2 separate regions of the Homo sapiens genome follow, and region 1 is linked to region 2. The links come from fine-mapping of genetic effects on gene expression. A gene starts in region 2. The other region holds a variant in brackets. All regions are shown on one strand. Distances are from middle to middle. Region 1 overlaps HEATR4 (HEAT repeat containing 4). Region 2 holds the start of HEATR4 (HEAT repeat containing 4).

The links. PIP is the estimated chance that this variant, and not a neighbour inherited with it, causes the effect. A credible set is the group of variants that fine-mapping cannot tell apart.
Region 1: its variant is the best candidate, but not a certain one, in a credible set for the expression of HEATR4 in testis (GTEx, PIP 0.66).

Annotation. Positions count from the first base shown.
Region 1 is chr14:73,523,734-73,529,227 of GRCh38, forward strand. All of the region lies in intron 2 of HEATR4 (HEAT repeat containing 4), which reads right to left. It also overlaps a transcript of ACOT1 not described here. Among named protein-coding and RNA genes, the nearest start is that of ACOT1, 11 kb to the right of the region's middle. The variant A/G (reference allele first, on the strand shown) is at 2,581.
Region 2 is chr14:73,556,074-73,561,325 of GRCh38, forward strand. It overlaps HEATR4 (HEAT repeat containing 4), which reads right to left and starts at 2,874. Exons shown (of 18, transcript NM_001220484.1): 1 at 2,678-2,874. RefSeq lists an enhancer at 3,706-3,875.

The DNA.
Region 1 (5,494 bases), 32 kb before region 2:
AATTCTATCCAATTTCCAGGCCCAGCTCAATTTGTGCTGCTCCATAACTCTTTCTTGACCTATCCAGGCCACCAGGTCATACCCAAGTTTATAAATTCCTCCTGGTCTGTACCACTTACTTTAACTGTTAATCCTATGATACCTCGCATTGTTAAATATTTGAGACTCTAATTCCATTGCCCAGTGACCATGTCTCCCATTTCTTCTGTCTTTCAGAGTCATCCAGCACACCTATTGCTACATAGTTTTTATTGTTAAAATATTTAATAGCTGTAGGCCGGGCGCAGTGGCTCACGCCTGTAATCCCAGCACTTTGGGAGGCCGAGGTGGGTGGGTCACCTGAGGTCTGGAGTTTGAGACCAGCCTGGCCAACATGGTGAAATCCCATCTCTACTAAAAATACAAAAAATTAGCCAGGCGCGGTGGCATGTGCCTGTAATCCCAGCTACTTGGGAGATTGAGGCAGGAGAATTGCTTGAACCCAGGGTGGGGGAGATTGCAGTGAGCCAAGATCATGCCATTGCACACCAGCCTGGGCAACAAGAGCAAAACTCCGTCTCAAAAAAAAAAAAAAAAAATATATATATATATATATATATATATTATAGCTGTAACGTATTTTATCAAATAGGTAAATGGTTTTGACTCTTCATGAATTATTGGATGGGTTGTTTCCAGATTTTAGCTAGCATGGCAAACACTGTAGATAACAAATGCTTAGATTTAATGTTAGTTTAGTTTTGTTTTGTTTTCCTTTTGAAGCATTCCCTTGGCCTAATAATGATAGTTTTGGAATAACCTTGCTGAGGATTTTACGTAGGGAAGATATTATGATCTTCCTTTCCTATTTTAAGAAGCTGAGGTTCAGAGAGGTAGGTAAATTGCTTCAGATCACATAGCCCGTAAGCAGAGGAGTCAGGTTTCAAATCTAGCCTACTAGATCACAACTCTGGAGCACTTAACCTCCGTGCCACACTGGCCTTGGCCCAAGCACCACTCCCTACCACTCACTTTGTTGGCCTTGCCTCTCCAAGGAACAGGTAGGCCTCCTTATGTGTAAGGATGAAGGAGAGACCATTATTCCATATGTTTCTATCCTGCTAGTGTCAACTCCTGCCCGGTGTCCAAGGTGCCCATGCAGACCAGATCTGACTTGTTTCTCTTTACTCCTTAACACCCAGCACATAGCCTCTCTCCCTAGGGCATGATTTCTCTTACTGTCTTCCATGTGTAAAAGTGACCGTATTGTATTTCTTTCTGTTAAGGGCAAGTTCTTTTTTGTGTGTTTTTTTTCTTTTGTTTTGTTTTTTTGAGACAGGGTCTTGTTCTGTCGCCCAGGCTGGAGTGCAGCACTGGCACGATCATAGCTCACTGCAGCCTCAACCTCCTGGGCCCAAGTAATCCTCCTACTTCAGCCTCCCAAGTAGCTGGGACTACAGGTGCATGCGCCACCACACCCAGCTATCTGTTTTTTATTTTTAATAGAGATGGGGTCTCACTATGTTGCCCAGGCTGGTCTCAAACTCCTGGGGTCAACAATCTGCCTGCCTTGGCTTCTCAAAGCGTTGGGATTACAGGTGTGAGCTACAGCACTCAGCAAAGGCTCAACTTTCATCTAGATGCCATTAGGCCAGAATCAATAACCTCCCTCAAATTACGTGACACATGATTAATATGCTATCACTCCAGGACTTTTTGCACATAAGGCTAAATGTAATTGCTTCATCTCTTCACAACCATGAAGGCAACGTCTTCATGAAGGCAAGTTAAGAGAAAGAGGGTGGTCACAAGATGATGTTTTCTCCTGAAACAGTGGCTACTCCCACTGGCTGAAAATAGAAAGGCTAGAGCAAGACGGCCAAACAGACCCCTCCAGCGATTGTCTCCATGCAGGAACACCAAACTGAACAACTGTCCCCACAAGGAAAGCACCTTTAGGCCGGATGCGGTGGCTCACGTCAGTAATCCCAGAACTTTGGGAGGCTAAATTGGGCAAATCACTTGAAGTCAAGAGTTCAAGACTGGCCTGGCCAACATGGAGAAACCCCATCTCTACTAAAAATACAAAAATTAGCTGGGCGTGGTGGTGGGGGCCTATAATCCCAGCTACTTGGGAGGCTGAGGCAGAAGAATTGCTTGAACCTGGGAAGCAGAGGTTGCAGTGAGACGAAATGGTGCCACTGCGCTCCAGCCTGGGTGACAGAGTGAGACTCCTTATTTAAAAAAAAAAAAAAAGCATCTTCATAAGAAACAAAAAATCAGGTGAGTGATCACAGTACCTGGTTTTCACATCGTATCAAGAAGAGGCACTGAAGAGGGTGGGAAAGACGGTCCTGCATCGCCTATGCCCCCCTCCCTCACCTCTGGCACAACAGCTTGGAGAGAGAATCTGTGCATGTGGTGGAGCGAGAGGAGTGTGGGATTTTGCATTGGAACTCACTGCTGCCCTGTCACAGCACAGCACTACACTGAGCAGAATTCTGCTGGCACCCACAGAGGACACATTTAGATCAGCTCTGGGCCAGAGGAGAATCCTCAGGTAGAGTGGGACAGACCTGAGTCCCAGCTGGTTCTGCCACC[A/G]GCTGACCAAAGTGGCCTGGGGCCCTGAATACATATGAGTGACAGTCAGGTCACAAGGACTATATTCCTTAGGCAAACCCTGGAGATGCACTGGTCATGGAGGCAGTGGACTTTGGGTGTGTGTGACCGCGTGTGACACCAACTGTGGTGAACAAGGGAGTGCCTGCATCATTCCTCCCCCAACTCCAGACAGGGCAGCTCAGGGAGAGACTCCTACTTGGGGAAAGGAGAGGGAAGAGTACTCAAGTTGCAAGACAAAGTCCAGAAGACTTTGAGTAGCAGCTCAGCCACAGGAAAATAAAGCACCAGGCAGAATCCTGAGGCTCCTGATTCCAGGCCTTTGCTCCTAAGCTACATTTCCAGACCTACCCTGCGCCAGAAGGGAATCCACTGCTCTGATGGGTCAGATTTATCCTGGCAGGATTCCCCACCTGCTGACTAAAGTGCCCTTGGGCTTTGAGTAAATATCAGTGGTAGCTAAGCAGTTCTGGCCACAGGCCTTGGGCAGGATCCAATACTGTACTGGTCTGCAAAGCTTCAGGTGTGACCCAGTGCACTGCCATCTGTGGTGGCCATGGGAGTGCTCATGTCACCCTTCCCCCCAACTCCAGACAGCCCAGTGGGGAGAGAGATTCCTGACTGGGGGAAAGAGAAGAGACAAAGTGAGAGATGTTGCCTGGGTAACCGGGGAATTTTCCCTTATCTTACCCAAGGCCACCAAAGATACAGGAGTATCCAGGAGTTGGCAACAGTTGCAGGGGTCATAGGCTTAGGGCACCCCCTGGTATACATCAGCTGCAGAGACCGTAGGCTTAAGTCACAGCACTTAATCCCCTTTGAATATATAGAAAGCCTTCTCAAGGAGGATGGGTACAAATAAGTCCAGACTGTAAAGACTTGGAATAAATACCTAACTCTTCAATGTCCAGACATTGATGACCATCCACAAGCATCAAGAACATCCAGGAAAACATTATTTCACCAAATGGACTAAATAAGGCACCAGTGACCAATCCAGGAGTGACAGAGATATGTGACCTTTCCAGACAGGGAATTCAAAATAGTAGTCTTGAAGAAGCTCAAACTTCGAGATAACACCGAGAAGAAATTCAGAATTCTATCAGAAATTTCAAAAAGAGATTGAAATAACAAAAATCAAGCAGAAAGGCTGCTCTGCCTATGGAGTAGCCATTCTTTTGTTTCTTTACTTCTCTAATAAACTTGCTTTCACTTCGCAAAAGAAAAAAAATCAAGCATCACTTCTAGAGCTGAAAAATTAAGTTGACTAAAAAATGCATTGGAGTCTCTCAACAGCAGAATTGGTCAAGCAGAAGAAAGAATTGGTGAGCTTGAAGACAGGTTATATGAAAATACACAGTCAGGGCCAGGCAGGATGGCTCATGCCTGTAATCCTAGCACTTTGGGAGGCCAAGGCAGGTGGATCACCTGAGATCAGGGGTTCGAGACCAGCCCGGCCAACATGGCGAAACCCCATCTCTACTACAAATACAAAAAATTAGCCAGTCATGGTGGCAGGTGCCTGTAATCCCAGCTACTTGGGAGGCTGAGGCAGGAGAGTTCCTTGAACCTGACAGGCAGAGGTTGCCACCGTACTCCAGCCTGGGTAACAGGGGCAAAACTCCATCTCAAAAAAAAAAAAAAAAAAAAAAAAGGAGTGATTTAGGATGTCCCCAGATAAATGCCCTTTAGCCTGTGACGTAAAGAATCTTTAGTTACAATGCAAACATCCCAGAAAGAATACCATATTACCATTATCAATTATTAGAAATTCTTAAGGAGGCTATGCGCGGTGGCTCATGCCTGTAATCCCAACACTTTGGGAGGCTGAGGTGGGCAGATCACCTGAGGTCAGGAGTTTGAAATCAGTCTGGCCAACATGGCGAAGCCCCATCTCTACTAAAAATACAAAAAATTAGCGGGTGTGGTGGTGGGCATCCGTAATCCCAGCTACTCAGGAGGCTGAGGCAGAATCGCTTGAAGCTGGGAGGCGGAGGTTGCAGTGAGCCAAGATCGCGCCACTGGACTCCAGCCTGGACGACAAGAGCGAAACTTCATCTCAAAAAAAAAAAAAAAAAAAAAACTTAAGGAATAGTTATTATCTGATATGATGGCTTATTAAGAAGGAAGGGAACACATGATAGGTCTGTTTTGAAAAGGAATGGGGACAGAACAAAATATTACTAGGTCTGATCAAAAGAGGCTTGTTCTGGCTTGTCTTTGTCTGCCTTGGAGTCACGGGACAGGTGTAAGGCCAAATTGTGCACTTCCCAGTCATGTTACCTTGGGCAAATAATTTAAAATCTGTAGTTTCCCAATCTGAAAATTGAGTCTGATACCTGTTCTAATTTAGTGTTGATTGATATGAAGCTCAAAATCAGAAACATGTATGAAAGTTCTTTGCAAACTAAAATATATGTGTGAGGAATTGTTATTATTAGTTTAGAGGATGGACTGTTGTCCTTAGAAGGCAAGTCTCTGGGTCCTACAGTTAGATGCACTGAGCGCTTCGGGAAGAATTTAGGGCTATGGGGTACTCAGCAATTAAAAGAGAGGGTGCTTAGAGAAGGAAGAAAGGACTTATTAATGGAGTTTGGAGGCTCCTTATTATTGAAACTTACACATTACGTGACCAGCATTATGAGGCAGCACCCACTTCCAACAAATAGCCCTCTAGAACCAAAAGCAGAGTGGCAGGTCCTGGGTCCTTTTGTACACAGCATAAAAAATTAAGTCAATCGGCCAGGCGTGGTGGATCATGCGTGTAATCCCAGCACTTTGGGAGGCTGAGGCGTGTGGATCATCTGAGGTTAGGAGTTCAAGACCAGCTTGACCAACATGGTGAAACTCCGTCTCTACTAAAAATACAAAAAATTAGCCAGGCGCAGTGGTACAT
Region 2 (5,252 bases):
AGTTACAATGCAAACATCCCAGAAAGAATACCATATTACCATTATCAATTATTAGAAATTCTTAAGGAGGCTGGGTGCGGTGGCTCACGCCTGTAATCCCAACACTTTGGGAGGCTGAGGCAGGCAGATCACCAGAGGTCAGCAGTTCAAGAGCAGCATGGCCAACATGGCGAAACCCCATCTCTACTAAAAATACAAAAAATTAGCCAGGCATGGTGGCAGGCACCCGTAATCCCAGCTACTCAGGAGGCTGAGGCAGGAGAATCGCTTGAACCCAGGAGGCGGAGGTTGCAGTGAGCCAAGATCACACCAGTGCACTCCAGGCTGGGTGACAAGAGTGAAACTTCTTCTCAAAAAAAAAAAACAAAAAAAACTTAAGGAATAGTTATTATCATCCGATATGATGGCTTATTAAGAAGGAAGGGAACACATGATAGGTCTGTTTTGAAAAGGAATGGGGACAGAACAAAATGTTACACAAGGTCTGATCAAAAGAGGCTTGTTCTGGCTTGTCTTTGTCTGTCTTGGAGTCACGGGACAGGTGTAAGGCCAAATTGTGCACTTCCCAGTCATGTTACCTTGGGCAAATAATTTGAAATCTGTAGTTTCCCAATCTGAAAATTGAGTCTGATACCTGTTCTAATTTAGTGTTGATTGATATGAACCTCAAAATTAGAAACGTATGAAAGTTCTTTGCAAACTAAAATATATGTGTGAGGAATTGTTATTATTAGTTTAGAGGATGGACTGTTGTCCTTAGAAGGCAAGTCTCTGGGTCCTACAGTTAGATGCACTGGGCGCTTCGGGAAGAATTTAGGGCTATGGGGTACTCAGCAATTAAAAGAGAGGGTGCTTAGAGAAGAAAGAAAGGACTTATTAATGGAGTTTGGAGGCTCCTTATTATCGAAACTTACACATTACGTGACCAGCATTATGAGGCAGCACCCCACTCCCAACAAATAGCCCTCTAGAACCAAAAGCAGAGTGGCAGGTCCGGGGTCCTTTTGTACATAGACAGCATAAAAAATTGACTAAGTCAATCCTGGCATAACTGCAGACCAGGCCCTGGAATGAGCAACCCACCAGCATTATCTGCATTTCTAGGAACTTGGGCTAGAAGGGGAGGAATGGGGTTGGAAGGGTTAGGCCACATGCCTCTAGTTAAAACCTGATGAACTTCCTAGATCCCCAGCTGGAAAACGTAGGAGTTGGACTAAATTCCTCTCCTGCCTCTAATATTTTATGAATACAGAACTCAACTCAAACTGGGTAGTATCTCAGAGATTCCAAATTTAGTTCCACTTTTCTGTTTGCTTATCAGTCGCTTACCCTCACCCTCTGGTCTGATACCTTTATCCTGTACAAGTGGTCAAAGTAGGTTGAGTAACATGTGCTAAAAGGAGTAATATCTTGCATTCTCCCTTGTTATTAAAATAGAGGAAACTGCCTTGAAAGAAAAGACTAAAAAGCAATAAGCCTTAGTATCAGTATCTTCTGAAAGCTTTAAAAAAATAATACTCTCATCTCTACCAACAGATTTGGATTCTGAAGTTCTGAGGTGGAGTCCAAGAGTGTGCAGTCAGCTTCTGGGGTGGTGTTTGTTAGATACAGTTTTTTGTTTATTTATTTATGTTTGAGACAGGGCCTCACTCTGTCACCCAAGCTGGAGTGCGGTGGCACAGTCATGGCTCACTGCAGCCTTGCCTCCCAGGCTCAAGCAATCCTCCTGCCTCAGCGTCCCCAGTAGCTGGGACCACAGGTGTGCACCACCATGCCTGGCTAATGTTTTAAAACTTTTTTTTGTAGAGACAGGGTCTTACTATGTTGTCCAGGCTGGTTTCAAACTCCTGGAATCAAGTGATCTTCCTGCCTTGGCCTCCAGAAATGCTGGGACTATGCCTGGAATAGATATGGGTAAAGAACCTTTTACATCAGACTCTTGTGTCCTACTCCCAGAATGCTGATTCAGTAGCCTGCAAGTGAGGCCTAGAAATCTGCATTTTCACAAGCTCTCAGGTTTAATACACAATACATTTAAAGAAAGCACAGCCCAAAGGGTGTCAGTGGGGTGTATGAAGGAAGCCTGGTTAGTGGGGAGAGTGGGATTAGGGAACAGCTGCTTAACCTGGCTTGTTTCAAGTCCCCCTTTCTCCCTTTTTGCCCTCAAAAAGTTCCCCTCATTTTTTCCCCTCTACTTTCTAATTTTTTACCATGCACTCACACAGCTATACAGCTATCTCCAGAGATTACTCTGGAAACTCTGCTATAAAGATGACCTGGTCTAATGCCTTGATTTGTTTTTTTTTTTTTGAGACAGGGTCTCACTCTCCTGGAGTACAGTGGCGTGATCATGACTCACTGCAGCCTTGACCTCCTGGGCTCAAGCAATCCTCCCACATAGCTGGGAGCATAGGCACATAGCACACCACTCTCGGTTAAATTTTTTTTTTTTTTTTTTTTTTTGTAGAGATAGAGTCTCACTATGTTGCTCAGGCTGGTCTTGAACTCCTGGACTCAAACAGTCCTCCCACCTTGGCCTCCCAAAATGCTGGGAATACAGGCATGAGCCACTGCACCAGGCCTAATGTCCTGATTTTATAAATCCCAAAACTGGGGCCCAGAGAGAAGAGAAATCATTAAGATCACCATACTGCTTGGTATCTAAAGTAGTACTGACCCTTTTGACACCTAATCCAAAGTTTTTTCAGCTACCTCAGGTTGCCCCTCATCTTCCAGCTGACACCATCCAGCACCTTTCAGATACTGGCAAAGGAGCAGTGTTTCAAAATTACTTTCCAAATGGCCTCCTAAAAGGCAGTCCTCAGAGAGAAGCAAGGTTCTGCATCTTAAGCCTTCCTTGGTTTCTTAGGTTCCAAAGCTGTTTCTATCAGTCTCCAAGCAACCAACTCTTTAGAATTCCATGAGTCTACTCAGAGAACTTGTGGGTTCAGTCGGGGGTATATCTTCAACCATTTATTAAATTTCCTTCTTTGTAAACTGAGCTTTGAGAAATTGCATCTTATTTATTGATTATTTATTGAATGGTAGTTTCATGGAGTTTTTGGTCTTTTTTCTTTTTTGAGACAGTCTCACTCAGTTGCCTAGGCTGGAGTGCAGTGGTGCGATCTCGGCTCACTGCAACCTGTGCCTCCCAGGTTCAAGCAATTCTCCTGTCTCAGCCTCCCATTACAGGCCACACCACCATGCCCCACTAATTGTACTTTTAGTAGAGATGGGGTTTCACCATGTTGGACAGGCTGTTCTCAAACTCCTGACCTCAAGTGATGTGTCCGCCTTGGCCTCCCAAAGTGCTGGGATTTGCAACTGTGAGCCACCACACCTAGCCTCTTGGTCATTCTTTGAAAAATAAACCTCAGCCAGGCGCGATGGCTCACGCCTGCAATTTCAGCGCTTTGGGAGGCTGAGGTGGCGGATCACCTGAGGTCAGGAGTTAGAGACCAGCCTGACCAACATGGTGAAACCCCATCTCTACTAAAAATAGAAAATTTAAAAAGAAAATCACCTGGGCCTGGTGGCGCATGCCTGTAATCCCAGCTACTCGGGAGGCTGAGGCAGGAGAATCGCTTGGACCCAGGAAGCAGAGGTTGCAGTGAGCCAAGATCAGGCCATTGCACTCCAGCCTGGGCAGCAAGAGTGAAGTGCAGTCTCAAAAGATAAAAATAAAAAAACCCTCTAGATATATGCAGCTCCATATTCTCCCACCACAAGGGTTTATAAATCCTGAGAAAGAGGCAAAGCAGGGAACACATGACCACATAGTTCTGGCAGGCGTCAGATTACCAGGCTGATAAAACAGATGGTAAAGTAGAAGCTGTCCGTCGACTTTTCCATTCCCCTTTCAGCTCCTCCACTGCTACTTAATCTCCTTTGCCCACACAGTTCAATCCCATTTTCCCTGATCTCTAAATCCTGGCTAGATTATTAGCCATTAACACTAGCTTTTACAAGGAGACTCTTCAATCTTGTATTTCTAATAGTATAATTTCACACGTACAGAAATTCTTTAAGTCATAGAAGTCTTACAGATACAGAAATTCTGATCTTCAAGAGTCCCTTTGTGAAACAAACTAATTTATCCTGACAGCAGGAAAGATTTCTGGGCCTAAGGCTCTGTCTCGTTGACCCAGGTCATGCTATTCAGGTGGTCCATCTCTTGGTTCCAAGCAAGACTGCTGCTGCTGACCAACCTGAATATGGACTTTAGCACTTGAGCTCAAGCTGCACTCAGATGGTTAGACCCCCATAAAAAGCAGAGGGTACGTTTTCTGTTATGAAAAGTAAAGACTGAGCCAGGCGCTGTGGCTCACGCCCATAATCCCAGCACTTTGGGAGGCAAGTTGGGCGGATCACGAGGTCAGGAGATTTAAACCATCCTGGGTAACACGGTGAAACCCCATCTCTACTAAAAATACAAAAAAATTAGCCAGGCGTGGTGGCAGGCGCCTGTAGTCCCAGCTACTTGGAGGCTGAGGCAGGAGAATGGCATGAACCCGGGAGGCGGAGCTTGCAGTGAGCCGAGATTGGGCCACTGCACTCCAGCCTGGGCGACAGAGCAAGACTCCATCTCAAAAAAAAAAAAAAAGAAAATTAAATACTAAAAAAATTAAACATTATAACCCTGCTAAGGCAGGAGGATCATTTGAGCCCAGGAGTTTGAGGCTGCAGTGAGCTATGATGGCACTACTGCACCCCAGCCTCAGTGACAGAGGGAGACCCTGTTTCTAATAAATCAAAACCCTGTTGAAGGTTCCTCAAAAAATTAAATATAGAATTACTATGTGATCCAGCAATTCTACTTCTGGGTACATATCCAAAAGAATTGAAAGCAGGGACTTTAACAGATATTTGTATACCCATGTTCATAGCAGCATACTCACAATAGCCAAACGGTGGAAAGAACCCAAATGTCCATCAGTGAATGAATGGATAAACAAAATGTGGAAGATACATACAACAGAATGTTATTCAGCCTTAAAAAGGAATGAAATGGGCTGGGCGTGGTGGCTCAGGCCTGTAATCCCAGCACTTTGGGAGGCCGAGGAGGGTGGATCACCTGAGGTCAAAAGTTCAAGACCAGCCTGGTCAACATGGTGAAACTCCATCTCTACTAAAAATACAAAAATTAGCCAGGCGTAGTGGCAGGCGCCTGTAATCCCAGCTACTCAGGAGACCGAGGCAGGAGAATCTCTTGAACCCAGGAGGCAGAGGTTGCAGTGAGCCAAGATCTCGCC